7 linked regions of the Homo sapiens genome follow. The protein of the gene in region 1 interacts with the protein of each later gene in a pairwise test. Each region holds a gene or a part of one and is shown on either strand. Other genes may lie near its edges. The genes, in order: FAM90A1, SPRED1, BANP, GCSAML, RPRD1A, MAD1L1 and ZNF212.

Evidence for each region.
Region 2: the proteins of FAM90A1 (region 1) and SPRED1 interact in binary tests that used the Homo sapiens proteins (3 or more experiments, as listed by UniProt).
Region 3: the proteins of FAM90A1 (region 1) and BANP interact in binary tests that used the Homo sapiens proteins (3 or more experiments, as listed by UniProt).
Region 4: the proteins of FAM90A1 (region 1) and GCSAML interact in binary tests that used the Homo sapiens proteins (3 or more experiments, as listed by UniProt).
Region 5: the proteins of FAM90A1 (region 1) and RPRD1A interact in binary tests that used the Homo sapiens proteins (3 or more experiments, as listed by UniProt).
Region 6: the proteins of FAM90A1 (region 1) and MAD1L1 interact in binary tests that used the Homo sapiens proteins (3 or more experiments, as listed by UniProt).
Region 7: the proteins of FAM90A1 (region 1) and ZNF212 interact in binary tests that used the Homo sapiens proteins (3 or more experiments, as listed by UniProt).

What each region holds. Positions count from the first base shown.
Region 1 is NC_000012.12:8,224,819-8,229,750, reverse strand, and holds the start of FAM90A1 (protein FAM90A1), read left to right. Parts: upstream 1-2,132; 5' UTR 2,133-2,271; intron 2,272-3,272; 5' UTR 3,273-3,479; intron 3,480-3,736; exon of another isoform or gene 3,737-3,758; 5' UTR 3,759-3,915; intron 3,916-4,862; 5' UTR 4,863-4,918; coding exon 4,919-4,932.
Region 2 is NC_000015.10:38,321,809-38,326,187, forward strand, and holds part of SPRED1 (sprouty-related, EVH1 domain-containing protein 1), read left to right. Parts: intron 1-432; coding exon 433-601; intron 602-2,954; coding exon 2,955-3,001; intron 3,002-4,379. UniProt on the Homo sapiens protein: Tyrosine kinase substrate that inhibits growth-factor-mediated activation of MAP kinase. Negatively regulates hematopoiesis of bone marrow.
Region 3 is NC_000016.10:88,030,902-88,035,280, forward strand, and holds part of BANP (protein BANP), read left to right. Parts: intron 1-2,207; coding exon 2,208-2,344; intron 2,345-4,379. UniProt on the Homo sapiens protein: Controls V(D)J recombination during T-cell development by repressing T-cell receptor (TCR) beta enhancer function. Binds to scaffold/matrix attachment region beta (S/MARbeta), an ATC-rich DNA sequence located upstream of the TCR beta enhancer.
Region 4 is NC_000001.11:247,551,615-247,555,993, forward strand, and holds part of GCSAML (germinal center-associated signaling and motility-like protein), read left to right. Parts: intron 1-4,379.
Region 5 is NC_000018.10:36,029,078-36,033,456, reverse strand, and holds part of RPRD1A (regulation of nuclear pre-mRNA domain-containing protein 1A), read left to right. Parts: intron 1-2,359; coding exon 2,360-2,466; intron 2,467-2,551; coding exon 2,552-2,649; intron 2,650-4,379. UniProt on the Homo sapiens protein: Interacts with phosphorylated C-terminal heptapeptide repeat domain (CTD) of the largest RNA polymerase II subunit POLR2A, and participates in dephosphorylation of the CTD by RPAP2.
Region 6 is NC_000007.14:2,219,002-2,223,380, reverse strand, and holds part of MAD1L1 (mitotic spindle assembly checkpoint protein MAD1), read left to right. Parts: intron 1-626; coding exon 627-806; intron 807-2,358; coding exon of another isoform or gene 2,359-2,497; intron 2,498-3,924; coding exon 3,925-4,049; intron 4,050-4,379. UniProt on the Homo sapiens protein: Component of the spindle-assembly checkpoint that prevents the onset of anaphase until all chromosomes are properly aligned at the metaphase plate.
Region 7 is NC_000007.14:149,242,439-149,246,817, forward strand, and holds part of ZNF212 (zinc finger protein 212), read left to right. Parts: intron 1-4,379.

The sequences.
Region 1 (4,932 bases):
GGAAGCAACTACTTCAGTGAGGCTCAGCCCAGCCACAGCAACCGCAGGGCTCCTCCTCGTGGCCTCCAGTGTGTGCTGGACTGACCGAGGGGCAGGGCCTCACTGTGGGCAGCTCACTCTGCACTGCTTCCCCCTCAGTGGTGGATCTGTGAAGCTATCCCCAGAAAGATTGGGGTTCTGCTCCTACCACTTGAAGTTCACGGCACACGCAGGCAAACAGCACCTGAACATGTCCACCACCTTCATGGGCAGGTCCAGGCCACTGGAGGATGTGTCCAGAGAGACACCCAGGTCCACTAACCCTGCTAGGCAAGAGGGGTGGGTCAGAGCGCTGGTCTCTGCCCTGGGAACACAAATCCTCCCAGCACAGTGAGACAACTTCCCCCGAGGGGAGTGAAAATTGGATAAGGTCCCCGACAACCCCAAGCACAAGTGGCTTAAGGTGGCCAAGCAGCCACACGGCCTGGGTGGGACATCTGAAAATGTAAGTTGACACTTTTTCTACATAGCCACAATTTGTTTTTTGTTGTTGTTGTTTTGTTTTGTTTTGAGACAGAGTGTCACTCTGTCACCCAGGCTGGAGTGCAGTGGCACAATCTCAGCTCCCTGCAACCTTCACCTCCCAGGTTCACCTCCCGCCTGTAATCCCAGCATTTTGGGAGGCCAAGGCGGGTGGATCACCTGAGGTCAGGAGTTCAAGACCAGCCCGGCCAACATGGTGAAACCCCATCTCTACTAAAAAAAAATACAAAATTAGCGAAGCTAATTCGTGGCAGGTGCCTGTAATCCCAGCTACTCAGGAGGCTGAGGCAGGAGAATCGCTTGAACCCGGGAAGGCAGAGGTTGCAGTGAGCCAAGATCGCGCCATTGCACTCCAGCCTGGGCTACAAGAGCGAAACTCCGTCTCAAAATAATAATAATAATAATAATAATAATAATAATAATAATAATAACAAGAGCGAAACTCCGTCTCAAAATAATAATAATAATAATAATAATAATAATAAACCACATCACACCCACCACAAACCAGCTGTCAGTGTGAAAATAAAGCCAAATAGCTTAACATTTCTAAAGACTAGCTGGGGCTAGGCATGATGGGTCAGGCCTGGAATCTCAGCACTTAGGGAGGCCAAGGCGAGAGGATCACTTGAGGTCAGGAGTTCAAGACCAGCCTGGCCAACATGGTGAAACCCTGTCTCTGCTAAAAATACAAAAATAAGCCAGGTGTTGTGGCGGGCTCCTGTAATCCTGTAATCTACTTGGGAGGCTGAGGTGGGTGAATCGCTTGAACCCAGGAGGCGGAGGTTGCATGAACTGAGATCGTGCACTCCAGCCTAGGCAACGGAGCAAGACTGTCTAAAACAAAGACTAGCTGGAGAATCCTGCCAGGAAAAGGCCCTCAGACTCCAACTGCTCTGCTCACTCGAAGCTGGAAGATGCGGCTCTAGAGACGCATCAGGACCAAGCCACGACTCCCCACTTGGAGAAATCAACGCGGAAAGAGACGGAGGCAAAGGAGAACCATCGCACTGGGAGAGGCGACGCTGTTTGACACATCGTCCCTGTACCTCCCAAAGCCACTGCCCTCCCACACCTGGGCAACAGTGGCCCCAACCCCAGGCCCAGCCCTCCTGCAGGAAGGAAGAGGACTGAATGGAGGGCGTGGCAGACTGAAAGGACGTGGCCTCCTCAAACCCCTTGGTAAAGGGCCTCTGGGGCCACCTGGCAGGGAGGGGCTGGCACACCAGGAAGTAGCCTCCTCCCGGGAGTTCAGCTAGAGCCCAGGTCCTGTCCCCAAGTGGCCTCCAGAGCCACCTTTTCTGAAAAAAGTACATCCTGCCCACCCCTGTTCCCCCTGCTTAAGGCCCCGCGTCCTCCCTGAGCCTCCTGCTGGCCTCTCACCTAGAAGCGGGGGTAGTCCTCGGCCCTCCAGCCAGGGGGTGCAGACCTGGATGTGCTGGAAATGCTTCTGGTGGATGAGGCGGCTGTAATACTCCCTCAGAGGCCCTTTGCCTTCACAGAGAAAAGCAGACACTGCCATGGACCCGTCTCTCTCCGTGCCACGTGGCCCCAGGCCCAAGACACTCCCCCTAGGAGGGATCCTTTTCCCAGAAGCTCCACCCCTCGGCAGCTCCAGTCAGGCCCCATCCGGGCCCTTCCAGAAGCAACCCAGGAGCCCCGAGACCTGCAGGGATGTGTGCACCCTGACCCCTGACGCATAGCCCTGCACCTGCAGCCAGCTGGCCTCGGGCTTGAAAACATGGCGGGGTAAGCACTGGCCTGGCACCCGACCGCCCACTGGGTGGACCCAGCCTTCTGTCTGTGTTGTGCGCAGGGGACACGAGGACTCCCGCTGCCCTGACACAGCCCCCAGATCACATGGCGCAGGTTCCAAGCCGCCCCTGCCCTGCCACAGCCCCCAGAGCACACGGCGCAGGTTCCAAACCACTCCTGGGAGCCTAGAGGCCAAAGGAGGGAGGAGAGCAGGACCAGCAGCTGGCCCAGACCCCGCCTCTTCCCACACCGCTTCTGCTTTTCCCCCTCCTCACTGAGTCATCTTGAAAGGGCTCAGCAGCAGTAACTGAGGGACAGGGGCTCTTCCGTTTGAAAAATTAAAAGAGGCTTGGTTAAGGCAACAATGACATGACCGGGCACAATGGCTCATATCAATAATTCCAGCATATTGGGAGGCCAAGGCAGGTGGATCACCTGAGGTCAGGAGTTCAAGACCAGCCTGGCCAACATGGTGAAACCCTGTTTCTACTAAAAATACCAAAATAAGCTGGGTGTAGTGGGCACCTGTAGTCCCAGCTACTCGGGAGGCTGAGGCATGAGAATTGCTTGACTGTGAGACGCGGAGGTTGCAGTGAGCTGAGATCACACCACTGCACCCCAGCCTGGGCGACAGAGACTGTGTCTCAAAAAAAAAAAAAAAAAAAAAAAAAGACATCAATGAAGAAACAAGAAAAAAAAAAAGATGCTTGGAAACTACTGAAAAATTAGAAAGCTTGGTATGTACAGATTCACATCTGGGCTCCCTGCCCTGCTGTGAAACCCTCTGAGCTTCAGTTTCCCACATGTAAAGCAGTATAAGACCCTATGGCAGAGAGCTGCAGTGGGGATTAAGGAGACAAGATCGTGGGAAGCACAAGGTAAAGGCGGCGTGCCCCTCCCTGGACTCCAATGCCTGGAGTCTCAAGACCAGCTGAAAAGGGAGCCAGGCACTGAAGGACAAAGCGGTGTTGACTTTCTTCATCTGTGTTTCCCAGTGCGCTCCAATTCACGGTGGTTTCCAAGCGCATTCTGGAGGAGAAAACACATGAGTGTGTGGTCAGGGTTCTCTGCTGACAGACCTACCGTGGGGAAGAAAGAGAAGCTCTGAAGATGGATCATGGCCGTGACTGCATGTCAAGGAGAATCTCCATGATGACACGGAGGCCTACGTCGAGATAGAGTAAATATGGTCCAATTAAAAGGTGTCTATTTTACCACATTTTTTAAAACAAAACAAAACACAAAAACAAAAAAGATGGAAAAGAAGACAGGGGTACAGGCACCAGTGTTACATATCTGACGGGGAACATCTATTCTTCAAAGCTTGCAGCTGTACACGTAGGTTTTAGAATGTCTGTCAGCAGTGGACATGATCTTAGAGTGGGCTGTGCAGATAGACCTTTCCGAGTCATGTAATTGGATTAAGTTAATTGTAATTAACCTACATGTAACTGATTAGGTTAGGGTACGTTCCACGTCAGGTGACCAGAGGCAGTATAAAAGGCAGCCTGGAAAGCAGAGGTCCCTCTCTGCCCCTTCCTCCGTCTTCCTGGATGCTGCATCGCTTCCAGCGGGGCTGCTCCAGCACCTGCCCATCTCAGCGCCAGCCGGGGAAAGAAAGTAGACGTGTAATTTCAGGTTAGTTTCACTGAACAGTTGTTTGTTTCACGCAATCCCTGAGGGGTGGGGGGGAAAAGAGACAAAGGAGGCCGAAAGAAAGCGATCACACTGGGGCTTGCTGATGCGGTAGGGTGTGCTCTCGTTACTAGTAATTCTTGGAACAGAAAACGAGAAAGCATTTCCGTCTCCATGTGTGGGATAAGACCAAGGTGGGAATGCGAAAAGAAATGTACTGCAGCATGCTGAATTGGTGGGTAAATGGAAAAAGGACTTTGGAAAAAAGGGTGGTTTGCCCTTCAGCCGTGTAAGACATTGATACGATATGGCACTTGTTCACCGTTCGTTTAGATGAATTCGTGTGGCATGCGTAAAATACCAGAAAAATAAATAAAGAGGGGCTGGAGCTAAAGCCAAAAAGATAGAACAGGAAAGACCATCACCTGCTAGTGTGGTAGAGAGGAAGATAACTTCTCTCTATGAATTTGTGTTTGGAAGTTGCCTAATGAAACGGCAAGAGTAGCGATTCAAGTTGTGACAGGAGGCATCCCTTATCCCAGATTTCAAACAGACCTGCCAAAGGGTGACACACGCCATGCCCTGTGGCTTCGATCATTCTGTCGGTCAAGGGAGATAGAGTCATCGTGTCTTCTACCGGAGTGAATCGTGATAGACCTAAGTCCAGTCTCCAGAATCAGTTGTTAGTTTGGGGTTGAAAGCTCAACTCCCCATACCTAGGCCACGGGCCCTGTGGCAGGCGAGGTTTACTCTTGGACTAGGTAATCATGGCAGAGGAACACACAATATCTGAGGATGCACACAGCACATTGTGTTCCACAGATTTGACCGACTGGTGGTGAGGTCTCCTCATGACCACACCGGCAAGGAATTAGCGGGGGGCTTCCTGTGGGTGTGTGAATATCCAATGTGCTTAACCATCGACTTGTGTGTGTTTGTGTGTGTTTCAGGTGACCCGACAATCAACCCCTGAAAAAGGCGGTCATAAAACCCCCAGGAGACGAAGATGATGGCACGTCG
Region 2 (4,379 bases), on another chromosome or scaffold:
GGTCTCAAACTCCTGATTTCAAGTGATCCGCCCGCCTCGGCCTCCCAAAGTGCTGGGATTACAGGTGTGAGCCACTGCCCCCAGCCAAAAATGACTTTAAAAAGTTAAATTTCTATTATTACCAACCCCCTGCCTGTTTCCTGGAAGTAATTCCTGATATATTCCTCCAGAAATTTTGTATGCAATGGGAGTGTATATATGTGTGTATTCTTAAAATGGGAGTATAATAAGCATCCTGTTTATAATGTGCATTTTTTTATTCCATCTTAATCTCTTTATTGAGTGACTTTGTGAAGTAGACCACTTTATTTAAAATACTAAAAATTATTCATTAAAAAGTAATAGCGTTGTATCACCTCAGTTTGTATTTATGAGCTACATTAGATGCATTTGATATATGTATATTAATTTTTGGTATTTGGCTTTTGTCAGGTGGTTTTGGAATGTATGCTTAAAAAAGACCTCATTTATAATAAGGTCACTCCAACATTTCACCACTGGAAGATTGATGACAAGAAGTTTGGTCTTACGTTTCAAAGTCCTGCTGATGCTAGGGCTTTTGATAGAGGTATCCGAAGAGCTATAGAGGATATTTCTCAAGGTAGGTATTCTTGACTATTTTCTTAATTTATTTATCGGTTATATATAGTAGAGGTTATCTTTCTTAAAGTTGACCCAAAGTAGTTTTCACACTTTAACCATGTCAGCTTTTGTGATATGTGACCAGGCTTTGAAACCTCACAATAGATGAAGATAAAATAATAGATTCCTTAACGTGATTTGTATTTGTCACATCATAGTCTATGTCAATTGCATGTATTATCTTGAAGAGTCCATCAACAGCTGACTTCAGATAATTCAAATGTTTTAAAATAAGAGCTTGAAGGAAGAGGGAATAGAAATGTACAGCTGCGAGAATCCCAGTTGGTATTCTACTTGTGTATGTATGACACCAGTCACATCCTTTTTTTGGGTAATTATATAGAACTTGTAATATTCAAATGTATGTAGACTCTAGTTATTCCATGACAAAAGTCTTTACTTGATTGATTTCATTATTGAGGATTGGCAGAGACCACAAGCTCATCTATTCCTTTGTTATCTTGCCAGTCTATTAAAATTATTAACTCAAAAGCATACAGGTTTTGAAGGGAAGAATAATGTTTTTTCATGTAAGACTGGCTTATGCTTACTTAAACAAAAATCACATTAAAACCCATTTCTTCCCATAAAGGAAGAACTAAGACTTGATTTTTTTTTCTAATTAGGAGGAAAATTATTTCAATTTAACTAACTTTCTATATAAAGTAACTGAAAGTGTGCTAGACTACGTTGTGATTTGTGTTATTTTGAAGATGTCATTTTAATAAGAAAATCTGAAAACATAAACTGTGAGACCAGTCACAGGCAAGAACATGGAAATACATTGTACAAATCTGTTTTGATAGTGCATAAAACTGTAGTTAAGTAATTTATTTAGCTACTTTAAAAGATTAGAATTTGGTAAATGAGTAATTTTTTATTCTGATCCAGAAAAAATTACTATGAAGTAATAGTAGCCATTTTGTCTTTATTGTAAGACCCCATAAATTCTCCTTAGATCAGTGTTCTTAACCTTGGCTACACATTAAAATCACCTGGGAAGCTTTTGAAGCTTAAAATGACTAGTCTGCACTCCAGACCAATTGAATCTATCTGGGGAATAGAGTCGAGTCATCCCTTATTTTTCAAAAACTCCAAGAAAGTTCAAATATGGTGAAGAATTGTTCTCTAGTCAAGGAATTGTAATTTGAATTTGAAGAAAAAAAAATAAGAAACTTAAAAAAAAAAATACATGATGTTCTGTGCCTCATTCCACAGAGATTCTGATATATTTTGGTTTGACGCCATACTCTGGCATCAGTGTATTTTTTGACAATTCCTCAGTTGATTCTAACCTTTAGCCAGGTTTGAAGAACCAGTGCTTTAAAGAGAGAGAAAAATAGTATCCATGGCTGCTGGAATTTATATGATTTAAAGTTTTGAATTACTTTTAAGTTTATGCTCATGTACCATAACAGTATACCTCTTTCACTAGGATCAAACAGATTGGGTTTAATGTTTTAAAAAATGATTTATAAGGAGTAGCTTACAAACTTCTAGGTAGAGTAGACTACAGTACTTAGTCTGCCTTGTTATTTTTGAACATTAAAAAACATTAGCTAGCATTATTATCAGCTGCTATATAGACTTTCAACAATCTCAAATTGCTTTTACTCGACCTTCTGTGACAAAAAGATAAAATATGCTGCTCTTTCCAAAGGGCGCATTTCTTCTTATCTCATGCCTACTCCGTGCTAAGCTGTGCCTCTCAAGGGTAGCATGAACTAAGAGTACTTTGCTAGGACAAATCCTTTCTTATTAATTTATTGAAACTAAAGGTACTCTTAACAGCATGAAAATCTGTACAGAGACGTTGATGCAAAAAAGTCAGTAACAACAATTGGCCATTAACTGTCAATAGTGGATTAAAACTCATTTGTTTTCCATCTTAGCTAAAGCAACTAAAATCCTGGTTATGGGTACTAAATACTGTTTCCTGGGTCAAAGCATTTAGAAAAATTGAATAAATCACATCTTAGCATCACCAGAGCAATGTAATTATAATCTGCCTAGTAATTTTGAGTATTTGGGAGAAACTAGGGGCAGGGGTAGCTAGAGATAGTATACTTTCAGAGAAAACATCTCGTTAGTAAGCAGCTGGAAATTTACCTATAGAGGAGGGAAATAATTACATTATTCTCCATTATTCTAACAGGGGCAAATGCAAGTGGCCAGTACCTTAATTGCCAGGCAGTCCAGAAAGATCTCTGATTAGTCTTCTAAAGTATTATAATGACATAATCAATTAGTCATTAATACTGGACTCTAAGACAAAAATTCTATACTTAATTAACTTTTATCTATTTTCTTAGGATGCCCCGAATCAAAAAATGAAGCTGAAGGGGCAGATGACTTACAAGTAAGTAATGGCTTGGAAGGAATTTGTAAACATAAAGGATGTGGAAGAAATCACTAGCCTTATTCAATAAACTTATCAATTACTAAGAATATTTCTAAGACACTCTATTTGTCAGATTTCTCCAGAAGAAAAGAACCAATACAGGTTGAGCATCCCTCATCTGAAAATTTAAAATCTGAAATGTTCCAAAATCTGAAACTTTTTTTCTTTTTGAGACAAGGTCTTGCTATGTTGCTCAAGCTGGTCTCGAACTCCTGGGCTGAAGCAACCCACCCACCTCCCCACAGTGCTGGGATCATAGGCCTGAGCCACCGTGCCTGGCCCCAAAATCCGAAACTTTTTGAGTATGGACATGACACCTCAAGTAGAAAAAATTTACACTTGACCTCATGTGATGAATCACACTAAAAATGCAGTCAGAATTTTGTTTCATGCACGAAATTATTTAAAATCATGTATAAAATTACCTTCAGCCTGTGTGTTATAAGGTGTATAAACATAAATTTCATCTTTAAATTGGGTACTATCCTTAAGATGTCTTATTATGCACATACAAATATTCTGAAATTTGAAACAGTTCTGGTTCCAAGCATTTCAGATAAGAGATATCAATCTTTATATAGAAAGTAAAGTTTCTGGGGTTTTTTTTTTCTTTTTTAAGGAAGTGGTTCATAAGATTGTGGGCTGGGTTGGCAGAATGGGCAGGCACGCTGAAAATTGGCACAAGTTGATGTTGCAGTCATGAGAAGGCCGAATTCTATTTTCTTCAGAGGACCTCAATCTTTTTTCTTATGCCTTTCAACTAATTGCGTGAGGTCACCCACATTATGGAGGATGCCTAACTGCCATATTAAAAGGACATTCAAGCAACACTGTGTAGATATTCATGTGGTGAGGAACTGAAGCGTTCAGACAATAGCCATATTAGTGAACCACCTTGGAAGCAGGTTATTCAGCTCCAAGCAAGCCTTAATAGATGACCAGTTGTGGCATGTTTTCATTGCAACCTTATGAGGAACCCTGAGCCAAAACCATCTAGTTAAGCTGCTCTTGAATTCCTGGTCAACAGGAATTGTGAAATAATAAATGTTTGTTATTTTAAGCCACTAAATTTGGGAATGATTTTTGACTAATGCAGATTCTGAAGACCTGAAAATGGAGTGCTGCTGTAACAAATACTAAAACATGGGAATGACTTTGGACTCAGGACTCAGACAGTAAATAAAAGCTGGAAGGTCTTTGAGGCGAGTTTTAGTGAAGTTCCGAAGAGACTTACTGGAAGCTTGAAGATCTTTGGATAGAGCGTCAGTGAGGGCTTAAATGAAAATGAAGAAAACCATATTGGAAAATGGAAGAAAGGGAATGTTTATTTAGTGGC
Region 3 (4,379 bases), on another chromosome or scaffold:
TTAGAAATGGAGATTTCACAAGGTTTGATAATGCTTAGATGCCTGGAGAAGTAGCGCATAAGTAAAGAATTAGGCTGGTTTTGTAGGTGCTAAGAGGGTCAGTGGAGGAACAGCAGCTCCGCGGAGGTGGGCTTCAGCCCAGCTGGGATTTTGTCATTTTCTTCCTGGGGTGCACAAGGCTTGCTCGAGGACCTGTGGTGGTGAGTGCTCCGTAACTGCTCAGGCAGACAGGAAGCCGCCGTGGAGCACGCAGCACTGCCTGGCGGTGGTTGCTTTGGGACATGACCCATCACTGGAGGTGCTCAGGTGGAGTCAGGGTCTTTGGCTGGAGCCGAGCTCTCCACATGCAGCATGCAGGTGGGCTTGTTGAATCTCCTTTGAATCTCATGAATTTCAGATTCTGATTTAGTGTAGCTAGGCAATTTCTAGCATATTGCAAGTATCAACATTCTGTTAATGTGACTGGGCACAGTGGCTTACACCTATAATCCCAGCATTTTGGGAGGCTGAGGCAGGCGGATCATTTGAGGTCAGGAGTTCAAAACCAGCCTGGCCAACCTGGTGAAATCCCTTCTCTACAAAAAAATACAAAAAAAAATTAGCCCAGCATGATGGTGGGTGCCTGTAATCCCAGCTACTTGGAAGGCTGAGGCAGGAGAATCGCTTGAACTTGGGAGGCGGAAGTTGCAGTGAGCCAAGGTCATACCACTACACTCCAGCCTGGGTGACAGAGCAAGACTCTCTCTCAAAAAAAAAAAAAAAGAAACCCAACATTTTATTGTTACTTTAAAAAATGTATTCAGTGGAATCTAGGTACTATGGCAATTTAATACCTACCATTAGCTATTGGTAAAAAATACATGGAAAGCTTTTCTCTCCCCTCCCCCGCTCTTGCCCTCCCCTCTCTTGCCCCTCCCCGTCCCTTCCCCCGCTCGCTCTGTTGCCTGGAGCTGAGTGCCATGGTGCCATCTCAGCTCACTGTAACCACCTACTCCCAGGTTCAAGTGGTTCTCCTACTTCAGCCTCCCAAGTAGTTGGGACTACAGACGCGTGCCACCACACCTGGCTAATTTTTGTATTTTTAGTAGAGACGGGGTTCACCATGTTGGTCAGGCTGGTCTCGAACTCCTGACCTGAAGTGATCTTGCCCGCCTTGGCCTCCCAAAGTGCTGGGATTACAGGCGTGAGCCACCGCGCCTGGCCCGCTTCTCTTTAATAATCAATAATTTTATGTCTTTCATTTTTCTCCTTTCATTCATATCAACATTCTACTTCTCTCACAGAATTTCATCTTACTGCTTCCCTCCCCTGTACCCCCGAGATGGAGTCTCGCTCTGTTGCCCAGGCTGGAGTGTAGTGGTGCCATTTCGACTCATTACAACCTCCGCCTCCCAGGTTCAAGTGATTCTCCTGCCTCAGCCTCCTGAGTGCCTGGGATTACAGACCCCCACCACCACGCCTGTCTAATTTTTGTATTTTTAGTAGAGATGGGGTTTCACCATGTTGGCCAGGCTGGTCTTGAACTCGTGACCTCAGGTGATCTACCTGCCTTGGCCTCACAGAGTGCTGGGATTACAGGTGTGAGCCACCGTGTCCGGACTACATTTTTATGCTTAAAAGCTTTTTAAAATTAGTCATTATAATTCTCTGCAACAAAACTACGTGTATACATTGAAAATTAAAAAGTTTTTCTGCGCTCTTAATATTCTGAGAGTTTAAGAAAATTATGATTGAGACATCATTACAGTGAAAATTAATACACAGTACATCAAAGCAAATGTATCTCATTTTGATTAAACACAGCAAGTAAAATTTGTTGGAAATGTATCTTTAAGTGTGCGGATGAGACTTTTGCTCTATTAGTTTAATTACCCATGGACAAATATTGCCAGCCTGAAACAGCTTTTAATGTCCACTTTAAGAACTTCATTCATTTAAATAAGTTGGGGACTAGAAGGGGTTTTGTCATAGCAGCATCACGCCACTCTCAGGCCCTTTTGCATTCCATGTCGGAAGCCTCAGTTCCTAAGACTCACTGGTAGTGATCTCTGCAGAAGAGTGGAGATGCAGTGAGTCGAGGAAAAATGAAGCATTTCCTCTTCTCTGCTGTGGGAGTCGACAGTGGGGGACGGGGGTGCACACATGCCACACCAGGCAATGCCTAAGAAACTTCTCGTTCACCCCGTTCACACCTGTTGCCCCCACAGAGCCGATGATGAGCACCCCACCTCCTGCCAGCGAGCTCCCGCAGCCACAGCCGCAGCCGCAGGCCCTGCACTACGCGCTGGCCAACGCACAGCAGGTGCAGATCCACCAGATCGGAGAAGACGGACAGGTGCAAGTAGTACGTACCCTCTCCACCTCACACCTTGGGAAAGGGGGCTGCGGGGTGGGCCACGGCAGGGCCATGGCGGCTTCCACCGGTTCCGCTGTGTTTTGGGAGCACAGTGATAGCTTGGGAGGAGGCACAAGGTCCCCATTTAAAGTAGAGGTCATCGTGGCCATGAGCTCTTAACATTTCACAGGTGGGGGCGGCTGCTGCAGAGCCTAGGGATTGAAGCACATGGTGGGGTGGGGCATTCAGTCAGCTCACCTCAGTCCTGCCAGCAGGCAGGCGGGCAGTCAGCTCCAAGGGTCAGGCCGTGCGGTGGTCCCTGCCCCAGCTCGTGCTCCTGGGAAACATCGGAAATATTTCTCAGTTCAGAAGTGCAGGCGCTCTCTTACTGAGGGAAAGAGTAATTTCCTTCTAGGATCAGTGGCAAAAGCTTGAGGTCATTGTTCCCATGCAGCGTGTCCCTTGGAGTTACTCAGCACACCCAGGTTGGGCGGGCACTGTCCCAGCAGCAAGTCAATGTCCTGCCTTGCCCGTGCGGAGTTCTCTATTGGGGTTTTGTGACCCAAGCTGTGGTCAGCCTGATGCGCCTAGGGGCTTGCTCCCGGGTGAAGTCCCTCTACAAACACCTCCTGGATTCTGTGGCATGAGAGTAGGGCGTGGCTGAGAAGGAAGGAAGACTTTTCTGGAAGCTTTGCTGAGTGACTAGAAATTTTACATGCACCACTAGACCTCGCCTATGTTTTTAGTGGCACCAGCCCCCTTGGGCCCTCTGAAGACAGGTCATCGTGTGCCTCCGTGTCACCAGGGCTTTCTCCTGGAAACATGGTCCTCCACTATTGAGAGTGGGGCGTGGCTCTCATCTCAGTGTGGCTTCAGCATGCTGTCTGGAAGAGGGAAGGCTTCCGGAAAATTCTGGGGCTTTTAGAGGGGGCGTTACCCTTCCTCTTCCAAAGGAGATGAGACAGTTATGAATAGTGAATCTTATTTAATAAGCTTATTAATTTGTTTGACATTCACAACGGCAGTTCCTCTCATCTTGTTAGTAAGAAGTTCTTTGAAAGCGTTCCAGAGTAGATAACTTTGTCATAAGGCTTACATAGAACATTCTACAGGAGTTTATTTTAAGATCCATTTCGACTAAGAGAGAATTTCAAATAAGATAAGGAGTATTCGTTTCATTTACAGGTTTATAGGAATTATTTGTCTGCCCATATGTATAAACAGTGGATTCTTTGATTTTTTTTGAATCACATTTATTAGTGTTTACTGAAACTGTCTAAATAGTCATATGAGTGTTTCTTTGATTTGAAAAACGTTGCCTGCCCTGTTGTGAGTGTAGGCACGCCAACAGCTCCCCTGCTTCAGCCACACACTGCGTAGCCTCCCAGTATCCCCAGAGAGCTGAACGTATCATTTGAAAAGAGGTGTCATTGTGATTTTCTATTTCCCCTCTTTTCTGTGTGTCATGCACATTTTAAAATTTACTTGTTTAGTAACATTTAAAGATGTAAATATCTTTCCTGGGACCTATTGCTCCTTTGTGAAGTGCTGGAAAATGTTCTGTGTTACACAGCAGCCCCCCCTTACCCATGCTTCCACTTTCCCAGGCTTTAATTACCCATAGTCAACTGTGATCTGAAAATATTAGATGAGAAACTCCAGAAATAAACAATTTGTAAGTTTCAGATTACATACTCTTCTGAGTAGTAGCATGATGAAGTCTGGTCGTCCTGCTCTGTCCAGCCCGGGACGTGAGTCGTTCCTTTGTCCAGCATGTCCAAGCTGTGTGGCACATATGGGCGGGAAAAAGCATAGCATATATGGGGTTCAGCACCATCCACAGTTTCTGGCGTCCACGTGGTGGGGGTAGGGGGTGCTTCTTGAAACCCTCATGGATGAGGGGGACTACTGTGAACCAAAAGCTTAATTTAAAGAAGTGACCACAGACTATATTGCACTATTCAGGATTTAGTTATCTTTTTGAATTGTAAACAGATAATCAAGAACAAACATTCCGGAAGATGTTTCTTGTTTCCTTTGCTTT
Region 4 (4,379 bases), on another chromosome or scaffold:
TCCCCTTTGCTCCCTGAAGGTTCTCTGAAATCAGCTGAGAAAAGGCAGATTAATAGGACAAAAGGCAAATTTATTGATCATCGTTTTATGTGACACAGGAACCTCAGAATGAAGACCCAAAGATGCAAAGGAAACTGTCCATTTCTATGCTTAGGTTCAACAAATTTTGGATAGCCATGTGGAAATATGATTGGACAAAAAGGATATGACCTAATGCTAATAGACAGAGTGGAAAATCCCAGCAAGTCTTGTTCTGTCTGTTTAGATTCTTCTCGACCTCTCTGTACAGCATTCCTTACTTATGAGTATGGGGCAGAACACTCTCTGGAATGGGGGCTTATGACCTACAGTCAGACAAAGTAGGTCAGATAATGTCTTTATGGCTGGTTCTTACACAGAAAGATACAGGGAAAGTTAGAGTCATCTTACTAATTTTATGGCTGGCTTTGGGGAAAAGAGGTTCTGGTTTCTATCAATCACCTTGGGGAAGAGGGATTCTAATTTCTATGGCTAGCCCTGGGTAGGAAAGAGTTGTCACAGAGAGGAGGGCAGGAGAAAGAGAGCTGCTTCTGAGGCTTTTATTTTGGAGTATCATTTTCTGAGCCCCAACAAAGAGATGGTAAAGAGCTGAAATTCATCAGGAACAACCAAAATGAAGAGGAAATTCAGTGAAAGTAAATGCATTCCCAAGGAGTCACCTTGGTGTGTGTCAGTCATTGGGATCACAGATGTGGTGTGAGAGAAGGCTGGAGAATGGCCTCTAGAACACGGATGCAGAGAGCCTCCTGTTGCTCTGACCCTGCTTGTCAGAGGCCTGTTACCTTGGGCAGTGCCTAATTTGCAGCCTGATAATTGGCTGCAGATGAGTCTGGGGAAGGTAGCTGCTGCTTTCTAGCCCCTGACTAGCAAGAGGGTGAAGTAAATGTAGACATCGCCCATGGGCAGTGTCCATCACATACCCTCTTTAGTCTTTATTTCAAAATTGATTTAGTTCTTTGAAGACTTTATCCTCCCATATAAATTTGTACACAAATTCTGAATTTGTGTATTATATAAAAAGTGCCAGCTTGAATTTGGATTCAGACAACATTGTGAATATAGAGATCTATTTGCAAATTCTTCTATGTTTATGCAGATGTACTATATGTATATATATTTTGAGATGGAGTCTTGCTCTGTCACCCAGGCTGGAGGGCAGTGGCATGATCTCGGCTCACTGCAACCTCCACCTTCCAGGTTCAAGCGATTCTTCTGCCTCAGCCTACCGAGTAGCTGGGACTACAGGCACGCACCACCATGCCCGTCTAAGTTTTGTATTTTTAGTGGAGACGGGGTTTCACCATATTGGCCAGGCTGGTCTTGAACTCCTGACCTTGTGATCTACCTGCCTCGGCCTCCTAAAGTGCTGGGATTACAGGCGTGAGCCACTGCGCCTGGTCTATGCAGATATACTATTAATACACCAATCAAAACAATTATTTATAATTATCTTTATTCAAATCTTCTTTAATGCATTCTGATAGAGCTTTAATTTTTTGTTTTTATTTTATTCTTTGTTAGATAGATTTCTAGATACCATATGCAACAGTAATAAATCTATGAATGACATTTTTTCCTAGCCTGTTATTGTTGGAATGCTATTGAATTTTGCAAGATGACTTTGTATCCACTAGCCTTGTTGAATTTCTCATTTTTTTTCATGGTTTTTTAATCCTACTGGGTTTACATAGTTAATATATCATCTATAAAGTTAAAGATTTTTCTATTCTTTTTTTGTTCCTTACAAGTCTTATAGGTACCTTTATCATGTTTTATAGCATAGTTATGTCAGAATTCTTAGGCATCATTTTCTTGTAACTGATCATAATAATTTTTTTCTAAATTGTTTTCATCAAGGTTGCTGTATATTTTTGACATTTATATTTGGCATTTATGTTTTTGGCATATTGCCTCTATCAAAATAAGGAGATTCTACTTTTTAAAAAAATATGTAGAGATGAGATTTCACTATGTTGCCCGGTCTGGAGTGCAGTGGCTATTCACAGATGCAATCAGAGTGCACTACAGCTTTGAACTCCTGGCCTCAAGTGATCTTCCTGCCTCAGCCTCCCAAGGAGCTGGGATTACAGGCCTGCACCACTGCACCCAGCTCTTCTGAGGGTTTTTATTGTTAATAAGGACCAAACATTATCAAATGCAGTTTTAAACTATTGAGATAACCTCATGATTCTTCTCTTAGGCTTCTAAAGTAGTTAATTATGTTAATAAATATTTTTGCTAATTACCTATCTTTTAATTTCTGGGATAAAACCCATTTGATTGTGATGTGTGCAATTTTACTATAGTTTTAGATTTAGTTAACTTATATTTTATTGAGGATTATTGCATCTATTTTCATGATCGAGTTGGACCTGTGATTTTTAAAAATTTGATTTATTTAATTTGAAATGAAAGTTTACCAATCTCATTAAATGGGTTGGCATCATTTTACATTTCTCTACTTTCTGGAACATCTTATATATGAGAGAGTATATTTGTCACTTGAAGTTTGGTAAATTGTGTACGCAGCTGTGTAAGCTGGATTTTTTTGTTATTGATGTTATTCATGTGTCAGTTTTTATATTTCATTTTTTCCAAGATATTATTCATTTTAAGCCATAATGTTTATTATACATAATTCTTCATCATGCCTGTTTTATGTCTGTAATACTTATTTTGAACTTTCTGTTTTCATTATATTTTTGTCTCCATTCCTTATTTCTTTAGTTGGTCTTTCCAGACTTTTGCTATCTTACTGATATTATTCTTTTCTAAGATTTGGTTCCCTATCATATTTATTTTTACCCACAACTTTCTTGTTTCCTTTTTCTTCTCCCAACTTCTTAAGATAAATGCTTACTTTGTCATTATTAGTCATTTATGTTTTCTTATGAATGTATTTTAGCAAGCTATTTTCTTCACACTTCACTTTATCCTTCAAATAGTCTTGTGTAGCTTGCATTATTATTTTATTCTGTGTTTTTAGAAAGTTCCTTTATGATTCCCTCTTTAACATAAGGATTATTTAGAATATTACTTGTGCCTAGACAGGTACACTTTTGGTTATAGCTTATTGGGTTTTAATTTTACTGCTTGATAGTTGGAGAAATCATGTGCAAATTGTTGATTTTGGGGGATGTTTACTAAGACTTTCTTTGTAGAGTTATGAAGTCATAAGTCAACATCCAACATTTAGAAAGTTTAAAAATAAGAAGAAAAAACACAGAAGGTATAAAAAATTATTCATAATCTTAATTCTTTGGCCAAGATACATCTAAAGCTTAATAAAATACCTATTTTTGAAAACAATAGAGTATTAGTTGATTTATTAATTTGGTCAACAAATTTTTGTACATCACCTATGGCCTGATATTATCTGAATTCCTCTGGATTAAGAAAAACACTTTTTACTTTATTCACAGTAGAATTTAGTATCCAGTTATATTCAGTAATATTAATGGTGTGGAATTCCAATTAGGTCCCTACTGATGTTAAATACTTTTCCTGTCTTGTTTTCAACTTTAAAATACAAACATCCTTTAGATGTGTAAGTCAATGAATCACTAATAACCCCAAGGACAATTATTTTACCAAATTCTTTCTTTATTGACCAGTTTAGGAAGATGGAATCGTGAGAAAACTAGACTCCAGGAAAAGGGGAAAAAAGGAGACAGTTAAATTACTTTTTACCTGATTTACAATCTACACTATTAAATAAACATTACATCCAGATTTGACTGTGATCGTGACTATTATACAAAATCTCTACATCAGCAACTGATTCTATAAAAAGCCCCCACCTCTGTAAATTGATATTCCTTTATATTTAACAAATATATTCTTTGCTTAGTGGCTTTGTGTGTTGATATCTAGCAATGTTTCTTGAACATATACATATGACCTCTATTCAGGGAAGGCACTTTCTCAGCGTTGGTTCGAAATGCTTTCCCCGAATACTGCTGGTAAGCAGAAGTGAGGCTCTTATATGCAAAGCTACCTAGAAGCAGAAGGATAGACCAGTGCTGCAGAAGTGACAATAGAGGAAAAGAAAACCATCAAGGAAATGCTATGTGTGGACAACTGGTGGAGTAGAAAGTTTGATTAACCAAGTCACAAACATAAGCTGCTAACTATTGTGTTAACCACGCAAATCACCTGATTTCTCTAACTTCGTCATTTAGTGTTTGCCTGATTATCATAAAGATGATGATAATTGATGGCAAAACACCAAGAGTAATATGAAAAAGTCAGCTTTCCTGAATGTATGTAAAGATCCCAATGTCTTATCTGCACATGGATGCCCACATGCAGCAGGGCCCAGAGACGCTTGCTCTGGTTCA
Region 5 (4,379 bases), on another chromosome or scaffold:
AGAACCAACTGCTATATTGGAATGAACTTCATTAAAAATGAATGAAGGTATTGAAGTAAAAATTTGTGTGTTTATAAAGCTATCAGTCTTGTAACAAATATTTCCATATACACTTAGTACTGTTTCTATTCTTTTTTTTTTTTTTTTTTTTTTTTTTGAGACAGAGTCTCACTCTCACCCAGGCTGGAGTACAGTGGTGCGATCTTGGCTCACTGCAACCTCTGCCGCTTGGGTTCAAGCGATTCTCCTACTTCAGCCTCGCAAGTAGCTGGAATTACAGGTGCCTGCCACCATGCCTGGCTAATTTTTGTGTTTTTAGTAGAGACAAGGTTTCACCATCTTGGCCAGGCTGGTCTTGAACTCCTGACCTCGTGATCCACCTGCCTCGGCCTCCCAAAGTGCTGGGATTACAAACGTGAGCCACCATGTCTGGCCTGTTTCCATTCTTTACTTGCCCTCTGGGTAATTTTGTACATCGCATGTATTTGGTTATTCTCCACACCGTAATGACTTACAGTTTTATGCTCCAGTCCAGATTTTTTTTTGTTCCAAACCTGTGTGCCCAATTGCCTTTTGACATTTTTACTTGTATGCGTCTCAAACATTTCAGACTCACTGTGTCTGATACAGAACTCATTATGTCCTTGCTTCCCACCGTACTTGTCCCTCCTGTAGGTTTTATACTCTGTGAATGGCAACTCGATCTATCCAGGTGCCTATGCAAGAAATTATGTTACCTTTAAACTCTTCTTTCTCCTTCAGTCCCCATATCTCACATAGTACACATTGACTCGGTTCTTTGGATTTCTTTCCCTTTTAGTTACCATAATGTATTTTCAGTATAATTTTAATGCCCTTTAGTATTGTTTAATTTCTTTAGAAAACTCGACAGAGTTGCAGAGCTGGTCATAATACTTCCTTGCCTTTGAGTGGTTCCCATTTGTTTTAGAGATGAAGTCTAAAGTCCTGAGCAAGACTTAAGGTGTTCCTTCGTGGCACTGCCTATCTCCCCAGACCTCTGTCTCGCATTTATTCCACACAGTCTATAGTCTACAGTTTAAGCTAAATTAACCTTTTTTAGTTCTTTCCGCCTTAAGTCTTCTATATATGTTGCCCCTCCCTAGAATTCAGTAAAATATTTATTGGCTGCATAAATATTTATTATATGCAAAACCCTGAGTAGTAGTGACCAAGACAGTTTTGTTCTACTGGAGCCTACATTTCATTGGATGACAAAGTTAATAAGTAGATAGACAAGTGAATGCATAATGTCAGATGACAAATGCTAGCAAGAAATACAAAGCAGGGAAGGAACTAGATAGTATGAGGGCGCTCAGTTATGTGATGAGATAAAGAACAACTATTTGGGGAAGGTGGCATTTGAACAAAGACTAAAGGAAGGGGTGAAATGAGCCATTTGACTAGGCAGAAAGGATTCTAGGTAGAGAGAATATGTGGCCGAAAAAATGAGATAGCTTATATGCTGGACATGTTTGAGGACCTTAGCAAGGAGATTTGTATGGTACTAGGTATTAGGGAGTGTGTACTGAGGGACTGCCAGAAAGCAGAGCATGTGGGCCTTATGGCCCAGAGTAAGGATTTTGGTTTTATTCTTGATGTGATTGGTAGCTCTTGGAGGATCAAGAGCTGTATAATCTGATTTACATTATTAGGATGCTTTGTACAGAATAGAGTAAAAGAGTAGAGGCTGGGAGAGCGTGAGAAGACTTTACAAAATTCTAAGCAAGAGATAGTAGTGTTTCTGTCTACAGTGATAGCAATGAAGGAGGTAGGAAACAGTTGGGAGTAGTCTGTTTTTCATTTCCCCATATGTCTAGTCTTAAGATCTCAAATTAAATATCATTTCCTTAAATACTCTTCCGGATATCTCTTAAACAGGGCCAGGTCTGTCTTAAGCACTTTGTTCTCTTTTGTGATACTTATAAATAACAACTGCCATAAGCTGCATTTGCATCTCCATGTCAAAGATAGTAACTGGATCAATAAGTATTTGTTGAATAAATTTAAAAAAATAACCTATGAGAAATCTTCCTTAGCCCCATGTCCAGGCCCCATTAGGATAGGAAATCCCTAGCAGCCAGTACTAAAACTTTTACAGTTTAAACTTTTTTTGGTTGTGTAATAATATGTTTATAAAATGTTTACTAGAAGCAAGCAGTGTGTCTAGATCACTTCACTTTTGAGCTGCTGGCCACATAGTGATGCTAAGTAGACATTTGGACAGTTTTTTCCAGGGAATGAATGTCTGATTATATTTAAAGTTACCGTTAACCTTTTCAATAACACTATGCATTGTTACTGTTAACATTTTTCTTTTTTTCTTTTTTTTTTTTTTTAGTGAAACTGATGAAAGTTGTAAGAAGCACCTTGGAAGAGTGTTATCTATTTGGGAAGAAAGGTCTGTTTATGAAAATGATGTATTAGAACAACTTAAACAAGCTCTGTGTAAGTGTAGAATCCTGATCTCTTACCTTGATCTCTTCATTAAAATGTATTCTTTCATTAATACTTAAATGTTCTTTCATTTCAGATGGTGATAAGAAGCCTAGGAAGCGAACTTATGAACAGATAAAGGTGGATGAAAATGAAAACTGTTCCTCTCTGGGATCTCCAAGTGAACCACCACAGGTAGAAATTTTACCCTGTTAAAAGAGTTACAAACTTTTACTTCATGTTGCCACCAAGCTTTATTAATTTCGTTTCACTTCTGTAAATTGATTTCTATTATACTTTTAGGTACAAGAAAGAAGCCACATGAATATCTCTTCCTCATTAACAAATTGCTTATGTTAAATGTAGTATGTTGTATATTGTATATTTTGCATAGAAATCATGTTTTGTATAGAAAGAGGATTTTTAATTGCCAAATATGGTTAGATGTGAGATGTTAGCTATTTAAACTTTTTAAAATAAAACAAAACATGCCTATTTTGTTATGTGATTTTTTTTTTTTGAGACGGAGTTTCACTCTGTCCCCAGGGCTGGAGTTCAGTGGCACTATCTTGGCTCACTGCAACCTCTGCCTCCTGGGTTCAAGCGATTCTCCTGCCTTAGCCTTCCAAATAGCTGAGACTACAGGCACGGGCCACCAAGCCCAGCTAATTTTTGTGTTTAATAGAGATGGGGTTTCACCATGTTGGCCAGGCTGGTCTTGAACTCCTGGCCTCAAGTGATCCTCCCACCTTGGCCTCCCAAAGTGCTGGGATTATAGGCATGAGCCACTGTGCCCGGCTCATGTATGATTTAAATACACTAAAATTTTCATTCTTGGACATAATCACTGCCCCTTTAAGTATTTTTGTTTTTAAATGTAAAAAGTAGTGTTAGAGTGGCCGGGCGCAGTGGCTCACGCCTGTAATCCCAGCACTTTGGGAGGCCAAGGTGGTCGGATCATGAGGTCAGGAGATCGAGACCATCCTGGCTAATATGGTGAAACCCCGTCTCTACTAAAAAATACAAAAAATTAGCTGGGCGTGGTGGCGGGCGCCTGTAGTCCCAGCTACTCGGGAGGCTGAGGCAGGAGAATGGCGTGAACCTGGGAGGCGGAGCTTGCAGTGAACCGAGATAGCACCACTGCACTCCATCCTGGGTGACAGAGCGAGACTCCGTCTCAAAAAAAAAAAAAGTAGTGTTAGAGTGATATATATGTGTTCATACATTTCTTTGTAACTATATAGAACTATGTAATTCTGTGGAAAAATAAGTTAGAATTATTATCTTAACACTCTGTGTCCTCCTACATGTTGGTATGGTATGGTATTCCTTAACCATCAGATTAATTCCAGAAAGACTTTTTTTTTTTTTTTTTTTTAAGTGGGCATTGAGTCTTTAAGCTTCCTCCTTCTATGTTTCAAACATGTAGGCGGGACAGATAAAGTGTAAAATGAGAAAATGAAGACATAACCATACTCTTAAAACAAGGCGAATGTATTTTCATGGGTTAGAAATTGTACACCTAACTTCATAGGTGAGACAAAACCTGGCTCCTGCTGAGCCCTGGTCCCGAAGCAGACATGGGGTTGCCAGAAATTAGTATCCTTTAAGGTCACAGGAACTCACAAGGGCAACAGGAACTCACAGTGCTCCGTGGGAGTTAGAGGACTGGTTCCAAATTCACTGAATAAAATCAGAGGCTGGGAGGAGCTCTTTCCCCCATGAAGGTGAAAGAAAAATACAATCAATTACTACCTGTAACTGTGGATTTATATTAGTCTCAGTACTGGAGAAGCAGAAGGAATCAGACCAAGGCCACGACCTGAGTCAGCCTACCTGTTTGTTCAGTGATAGGAATGCTGAAGCCCATTGGCCACTATGGACAAGAGCTTGAATAGAAAAGTGATAAGAATGTTACATTTGGA
Region 6 (4,379 bases), on another chromosome or scaffold:
GTCTGAGCGTGGTGCTTGGTCATGTCCCATCCCAACCAGTGAGAGCCACGCGGCCTCCCTAAGGCCAGTCGTGGGGGGTGGGTCTGGAGGTTTGTGGTTTGTGTGAGAGGGGGTGCATGTGTGGCAGATTTGAGCCCAGTGTAAACTGCTTCTGCCCACAGCCTCCTGTCCACGCTGCCTGTCTCTGCCCCTGTTGTCTGCTCGCTGGGGGAGTGCCAGCTCCTTTCAGTGCCGGACAGAGCGTAATTAGACAGGATTTGCTGGTGCTATGAAAGCTCAGCTTCTCCCCAAGGTCAATGCTGAATTTTAGATTTCCCATGCCCCCTCTCCCTGCAGAGGCAACTGCTGAGCAGACGGTGTGATAAATGTGTGTGTGATCTGTGCCAAGTGCCCTTCCTGGGAGCCCTGACCTCGCACAGTGCTCACCGTCATGGTGCCACAGCGGGGGTGCCAACGCTGGGGCTGGGTCCCAGGTCCCGTCCTGGTTCTGCCTATGACTTGGCTCATGGGTCCTGCTCGGCTCTTTTTTGTGCCTCGGCATGTTCTGAGAGAGGTGTGGGGGTGAGGGCTCCCCGCTGACCCTCCCGTGGGCGGCACGTGGCATCTGACTCTTGCTCTCTTAACAGCGTGAGGTCGACCGCAACCAGGAGCTCCTGACGCGCATCCGGCAGCTTCAGGAGCGGGAGGCCGGGGCGGAGGAGAAGATGCAGGAGCAGCTGGAGCGCAACAGGCAGTGTCAGCAGAACTTGGATGCTGCCAGCAAGAGGCTGCGTGAGAAAGAGGACAGTCTGGCCCAGGCTGGCGAGGTGAGCGGGGCCTCTGCTGCGCAGGGAGCTGTTTTCCCGAGGAGAGGGAGTGCATGCTCTTGTTTGCCACTGCAGTGCCCGCTTGTGTTTTCACTTGTGCTTCCCACACGGGCAGCTGCGTTTTGTACATAGTTGTCATCAGTAGAAGTATTAATTTTCCATTCTGTAGTTTTCAGTTAAAAAGTTGAGACTTTGGGCCGGGCGCGGTGGCTCACGCCTGTAATCCCAGCACTTTGGGAGGCCGAGGTGGGTGTATCATCTGAGGTTGGGAGTTGGAGACCAGCCTGACCAACATGGTGAAACCCCATCTCTACTAAAAATACAAAAATTAGCCATGCGTGGTGGTGCGCACCTGTAGTCCCAGCCTGTGGGACTCGGGAGGCTGAGGCAGGAGAATCGCTTGAACCCAGGAGGTGGAGGTTGCAGTGAGCTCAGATCACACCATTGCACTCCAGCCTGGGCAACACAGCAAGACTCTGTCTCAAAAAAAAAAAAAAAAGTTAAGCACTTTTTTGCCTTTGTAATTATGAATTTAAATGGATGATGAATCTGTTTTTTGTTGTTTGTGGACGTTTAGTGTGTTTGTGTTCGCTCATGTATGTATGCGACAGGTAGCCCTTCCCTCAGCCCTCGCTTCTGTTGACTTTGGACAGACCCCTAGGACTGGGTTATAAGGTCCCTAGCGATGGCGGTCTCTGCAGCCGTTGTGCTCAGAGGCCTGGCTGAGGGCTCCAATTTCCCCGTAGCCTTCCCTGTCGTGGATGGTGGTCTTTTCTGGAAATAGCTGTTGTTTTGTCAGGAGGCTTAAGGAGGCACGTCTGGATTTGCATATCTTTGACTGTCTGCAAGGTCTACAGGCATCTGATGGCGTCGGATAATTGCCTCTGAACTGGAGCCTGTGTGAACTGCAGTCCTGGTGAAGGTTGCTTGCATTTTAGAAACAGCCCAGACATGGGCACTGGTGGAAATTGGAATCTTCTGACCTCTCCTGTCCTTTGTCTGTGGCGATCAAGATCGCTGGTGCCAAGAGGAAACATGAAAATCTGCTGGTGTGGGGGTGGAGGCGTGGTAGGGGTGGGGTGGGCGTGCAGCGGGGGTCCTGGAGGGGTCCAGAAACTGGCCGCGGGTCCTTCCTGTGGCCGTGCTGGGGAGGCGTGTTCAGGCTGTTCCCCTATCTGCTTCTGGAGGGAACGTTGGCAGGAGAGGAGGCGTGATTGGCTCCCGAGAAGCTGCTCTTGCCTTGCCCATGCTCTGGGTTCCAGTTCCCATGTGCTGGGCTGTACTGGAGTTGGGCCGGGGGCTGTCCCCGCTGCCTGCGGGCACCTGTGGTTCCATGGGGGAGGGTGAGTCGTGCCGAGCACTTCATGAGGGGCAGAGGAGCAGGAGACTGCAGGAGCCGCAGGGCGGTGCCCGGTGGGGTGGGGCATAGTGAGGGGAAGATGGTGGCGCTGCAGGTGCTGCTGCTTTGGCCTGTCATGTCTAAGCCGAGGTGGCCGCTCCTCAGGGAAGCCCTCCCTGCGCACTAGGCCTTGACTGCCTTCTCCTGTCACAGGGTCCTGATTGTCACGCTCCTTACTCTGGAATTATCTTATGCGCCTCTTCCTTGCCAACTGTCCGGCGTCCCCTACAACACGGGTGACCCTGTGGGCAGGTGGGCTCGGCCCTGCATCTGGCCTTGCCCCTGGCACACGGTGCGTATTAATTGAGTTCGGAAGACCTCTGGGAGGATGTGTTTATTGTTAGTATGTTTTTAATACCTTTCTTCTTTGTTGACTCCCAGGTTGATGCTTCACTGTTGTGGTGAAGTAAACCGTACATATTGTGGGCATGTGGGGAGCACGCAGCCCCCATGCGGGCCTTCCCAGAGCGGCGTGGGGTGGACAGCGGTGATAGGCTTCAGCAGGCCCTAAGCTGGGCACGTTCTCAGGGACAGGGAAATGAGTGCTGAGGCCTCCTTGTTTGCGGAGGGTGCCGCCCAGCCAGGCCCACCCAGGTCGTTTGCTGTGTGAGTTTGCCATTGTCCTGTCCTGGGTGCGTGGTCCCCAGGGCTGACATCACGCCCGTGTGTTTCCGTGTGTTAACTTACAGTGATGCTTCTCAGGGTCTGTCCGGCTTTTCACATTGGCTCGACCCACGTGCTCTTTCTTTCTCTGAGGACACCTGGGGTTTTCTGAGCTTTTCCAGAGGGTTAGGGTCCTCAGAAGGTCGCCTGGTGGGAGTGGTCAGGAGGAAGCCTGGCGGTTCTGTCGCGTGCGGGTTCCATGATGTCAGGCAGACCTGCTGTCCTGGAGGCTGCCAGAGGGGCTGCTGGCTTTGCTCAGGGGCCGCCTCCCCAGGGGCGCTCCTGCCCGTGCCGCGTGCTCCCGTTCCAAGCGCACGGCCTCCCCAGCAGGTACCGCCCTGCCCCTTGCACAGCCTCCGTCTTTGTCCTGTTGGTTGGCCAGTGCCTTGCTGTGGTGTGAGGGCGATGTCGCTAGCAAACAGCCGTCATGGTAGCATTGGGGTGGCTAGGGAGGGATGACAGGAGCCACGGTTGGAGGGAAGACCGAAGTGATGGTGTGGCGGGTATGTGGATGTCTGATGGGACTTTGGGAGCGTGGGGCACTGGCACAGAGACTGCCAGGTGCCAGGCCTGAGAGTCCGGGCCCATCTTGGCTGGTGGAGGCTTTTGCTTCTGAAGCCGCCTCACCAAGCCTCCTTTCCAGGGCCCCTGGCTGGGGCCCGGTCTCCTCTGTCAGCTCCTGGGTGGCTTGTGGCAGGCTCTGGGCTGTGCTGCTCTGGAGCACCAGGAGGAGGGTGGGCCCTGCGTGTGAGCGTCTGCCTGACCTGCATCCTCCAGAAGGAGGTGGCTCTGCCCCCTGGCCCTCTGCTCCCCTGCTCCTCTTCCCCCTGCCCTCTGCCCCCCTTGCCCCCTTGCCATCTGCCCCCCTACCGCTCTGCCCCCCTACCCCTCTGCCCGATGCCCCTCTGCCCCCTTATTCCTCTGCCCCTCTGCCTCCTGCCCTGATTATAGCACGTGGGTGGTGTCGCCTCTCCACTCTTCTCATCTCCATGTGCAGGCTCCTTCCACGCACGGGCTCCACTCACTGAGCGGCTCTCTGGTCCCCTCTACTTTTAGACCATCAACGCACTGAAGGGGAGGATCTCGGAACTGCAGTGGAGCGTGATGGACCAGGAGATGCGGGTGAAGCGCCTGGAGTCGGAGAAGCAGGAGCTGCAGGAGCAGCTGGACCTGCAACACAAGTGGGCGGGGCCAGGGTGTGGGGTCGGGGGTCGGGTCACGTGTGGGGGCATGCGTCCCACCTCTCTCCTGGTGGCTGGGTGGGATGTGGATACACTCCCAGATGCTGTCCTAATTCACAGACACTCAAGAGGGGCAGATGCTGAGGCCTCTGGAGCCAGGACCGTGAGCCCAGAAAGTGTCCTGATGTTCCTGGAGCAGAATGGGGGCAGCAACTTCCTCCCCCTCCTTCTTAGAGAGGGCTCCTGCAGAGCCAGATTTTACTTTATTTTTTGAGACAGGGTCTCACTCTGTCGTCCAGCCTGGAGTGCAATGGTGTAATCATGGCTCAC
Region 7 (4,379 bases), on another chromosome or scaffold:
AGTAGAATGATATTGTCAATAGGCTGAAAGAAAGTAACTGTGGTCCCATAGTTTTATATGCAGCAAAAATGTTTCAGAAACAAAGATGTAAAGAAGACATTTTTAGACAAATTAAAAATGACAGTTTGCTACCAATACACTCTTAGAAAAGGAAATTCTAAAAGATATACCTCAGGTAAAATGAAAATTTTCCCAAATAGAAAGTCTGAAAATATGAGAAGATGTGATGATGCATGGAAATGGTTAAATCTAAACAAATAGTGACTTAATAAAACGTAACAATTTCTTGTTGTGTTAAAAACAATTAAAATACATGATGGCATTGATGTAAATATGAGGAAGAGATGATCAGAACTAAAGTGTTTAAAGGGCTTTGTTAAAGGGCCTTCTATGTATGTTTCCCATAATTTCTAGGATACTTGCTAAACAACTCGAAATTGGTCGTATAACTTACAGATCAGAAAGGGGGATAATGGAATAAGAAAAAATTAATGTAAAAGAAGACAAGAAAGTAGAGAAGAAAGATGGGATAAATAGCACAAAAAAGGTAAAAATAAATCAAAGCTAATGAACAATTACAATAAATGTAAATGAATGAAATGTTCAAGTTAAAAGGCATAGATTGTCAGGATGGGGGAAAAATCCAACTAGATGGTTTAAAAGAGTTACAACCGGCTGGGCGTGGTGGCTCACGCCTGTAATCCCAGCACTTTGGGAGGCAAAGTTGGGTGGATCATGAGGTCAGGAAATTGAGACCATCCTGGCTAACACAGTGAAATTCCGTCTCTACTAGAAATACAAAAAATTAGCCAGATGTGATGGTGGGTGCCTGTAGTCCCAGCTTCTTGGGAGGCTGAGGCAGGAGACTGGCGTGAACCCAGGAGGCGGAGGTTGCTGAGGCAGGAAAATCACTTGAACCTGGGAGGCAAAGGTTGCAGTGAGCCAAGATTGCGCCACTGCACTCCAGCCTGGGTGACAGAGTGAGACTCCGTCTCAAAAAAAAAAAAAAAAAAAAAAAAAAGAGAGAGAGAGAGAGATACAACTAAAAGATAAGGATATAGAAACAGTTGAATATAAAAGGTCATGAAAAAATATGCCAAGCAAATACTAATGAAAATAAAGTTGACAAATATATTTAGTATCTTTAGAGATAGAAGGCTCCTACTACTTTTGTAATGGTAAAAGACTCAATTTACCAGCTAGATACAAAATTTCTAAACCTGTATGCACCTAATTACATAGCCTAAAAATATATAAAACAAAACTGACAGAATTGCGAGAAAGATTCACTGTTATAATAGGAGATTTTAATACAACCTTAGTATTTTATCAAATAGAAAAGACTTATAAGGGTGTAGTGCATCCAGTAGAACTTCCCAAGATGATAGAAATGTTCTGCTCTGCACTGTTTAATACAGTGGCCACTAGGCACATGTGGCTTTTGAGCACTTGAAATGTTAGCTAGTATGATTGAGGAACTGAGTTTTAAATTTTATTTATTTATTTTGAGACAGACTCTCACTCTGTCACCCAGGCTGGAGTAGAGTGGTGCAATCTTGGCTCACTGCAACCTTGCAACCTCTGCCTCCCAGTTTCAAGTGATTCTTCTGCCTCAGCCTCCTGAGTATCTGGGATTACAGTCATGTGCCACCACACCCGGCTAATTTTGTATTTTTAGTAGAGACAGGGTTTCATCATGTTGGTCAGGCTGGTCTTGAACTCCTGACCTCAAGTGATCCGGCTGTCTTGGCCTCCCAAAGGGTTGGGGTTACAGGCACGAGCCACTGTGCCCGGCTAATTTTATTTAACCAGCCACATGTGACTAGTGGATATTATATTGGAAGCACAGGTACAGAAATGATTATTTTTATTTTTATTTTTATTTTTTTTCTGAGACAGAGTCTCTCTCTGTTGCCCAGACTGGAGTGCAGTGGTGCGATCTCGGCTCACTGCAAGCTCCGCCTCCCGGGTTCATGCCATTCTCCTGCCTCAGCCTCCCCAGTGGCTGGGACTGCAGGAGCCCGTCACCACGCCCGGCTAATTCTTTTGTATTTTTAGTAGAGATGGGGTTTCACCATGTTAGCCAGGATGGTCGCGATCTCCTGACCTCATGATCCGCCCACCTTGGCCTCCCAAAGGGCTGGAATTATGGGCGTGAGCCACTGCACCTGGCCAGAAATGATTTTTTTAATCCATATATCTATCAGTATATAATATCAAAGTGTAGAGACAAAATGAAAACAAAAGAGAGGAGGCAAAAATAAAAACCTATTGGGAATGAAAATGTGTGCATTCCCATGTCTATTGGTTGATGCTGGTGTGTAGACTGAGATTGTAGGTAAGGCCGTTGAACAGAACACTTCATGCACCCTCTTCATGTGGCTTGGGATTTCTCAAGGGATTCTAGCACCTGGCTGCCTGTGATTTGCCCCACTTGACAGAGAGTGGAGCAGAGACGAACCATCCATGTGCCACCCTCCTTTAACTGCAGATTCACATGCAAAGTAGATGATGATGTCTTAAGCCACTAAATTTGGGGATTATTTGTCATACAGGAGTTGATGGTTGGAATAGATACCTAGGGAAAATGTTAAAACATTGAAAGATATTAAAAATGGAGTCTCAAAAGGCTGGGCATGGTGGCTCATGCCTATAATCCTAGCACTTTGGGAGGCTGAGGCAGGTGGATCATTTGAGGTCAGGAGTTTGAGACCCGCCTGGGCAACATGGTGAAACCCTGTCCCTACTAAAAATACAGAAAAATTAACCAGGAGTGGTGGCACACACCTGTAATCCCAGCTACTTGGGAGGCTGAGGCAGGAGAATCACTTGAACCTGAGACAGAGGTTGCAGTAAGCTGAGATCATGCCACTGCACTCCAGCCTGCAGCCTGGGCGACAGAGCGAGAGACTCCATCTCAGAAAAAAAAAAAAAAAAAGGATTTGCATACTATGTTTATGAATTGAAATTCATCCTAAATGTGTCACTTTTCTGTTGGGTGGGGTGACTCATGCCTGTAATACCAGGACGTATAATCGTGCCACTGCCCTCCAGCCTGGGTGACAGAGTGAGACCGTGTCTTTATTTATTTGAGACAGAATCTCTCTCTGTCACTGGAGGGAAGTGGTGTGATCATGGCTTCCTGCAGCCTCAATCCCCTGGGCTCAAGTGATCTTCCCACCTCAGCTTCCTGAGTGGCTGGAACTATAGGCACCTGTCATCATGCCTGGCTAATTTTATTGTCTTTTTGTAGAGATGGGATTTCACCATCTTGCCCTGGCTGTTCTTGAACTCCTGGGCTCAAGCTGTCCTCCCGCCTCAAGCCTCCCGAAGTGCTGGGATTACAGACTCGAGCCACTGTGCCCAGCCATAGATTCCCCAAGTGGGATTGCTAGGTAAAAGGGTTTTTAATGACTTGAAATTTTTCTTCCCCTAAGAGTGTGTAGTATTTTTCATTCCTTCCAGGAGTGTTATGAGAGTCAGTTTACCACATTATAGTCAGCTCTGAATGTTATTCTTTGTGTCTGTTTCATGTTTGTCAGTCTGATGGGTGAACGTGCTTTCACTTAGTTATATTTGGATTCCTGATTGTAAGGTGGTTGTGTTTTCATTTGTTTATTGACTGCCTGCATTTCCGCTTCCATGAATGATTTACAATCTGCAGTTTTATTTTGGGGTTCTTGACCTTTTTCCACTTCATATTCTGTTTACAAATATTCTCTCCTTGTTTTTAGACTTTGTTTATGTTATCTTTTATTACAGCTAGCATTTTCTCCTACTTTGACATTCTAAGACGTGTTTATTGAGATACCATTTACATACAGTAAAATTTACTCTTTAGGCAGATAGTTCAACAAATTTTGACAAATGTGTAGCCAGCATATTACCAAGATAGAGAATATTTCCATCATCCAAGAAAGTTCCCTCATATCCCTTTATAATCAGTCTTTTTTTTTTTTTTTGAGACGGAGTCTTATTCTGTTGCCCAGGCTGGAGTGCAGTGACGTGATCTCAGCTCACTGCAGGCTCCGCCTGCTGGGTTCACACCATTCTCTCGCCTCAACCTCCCAAGTAGCTGGGACTACAGGCACCTGCCACCACACCTGGCTAATTTTGTTTTTGTATTTTTAGTAGAGATGGGGTTTCACCATGTTAGCCAGGATGGTCTTGATCTCCTGACCTCATGATCAATCCGCCCTCCTCGGCCTCCCAAAGTGCTGGGGTTATAGGTGTGAGCCACTGTGCCTGGCCTATAATCAATATTTTTCTCCTATCCCTAGCCCTTGGCAACCACTGATCTGATTTCTGTCCCTATAGTTTGCTTTTTTCCAAACATGTAAATGAAACACAAATGTAGCCTTTTGTGTCTGAATTCTTTT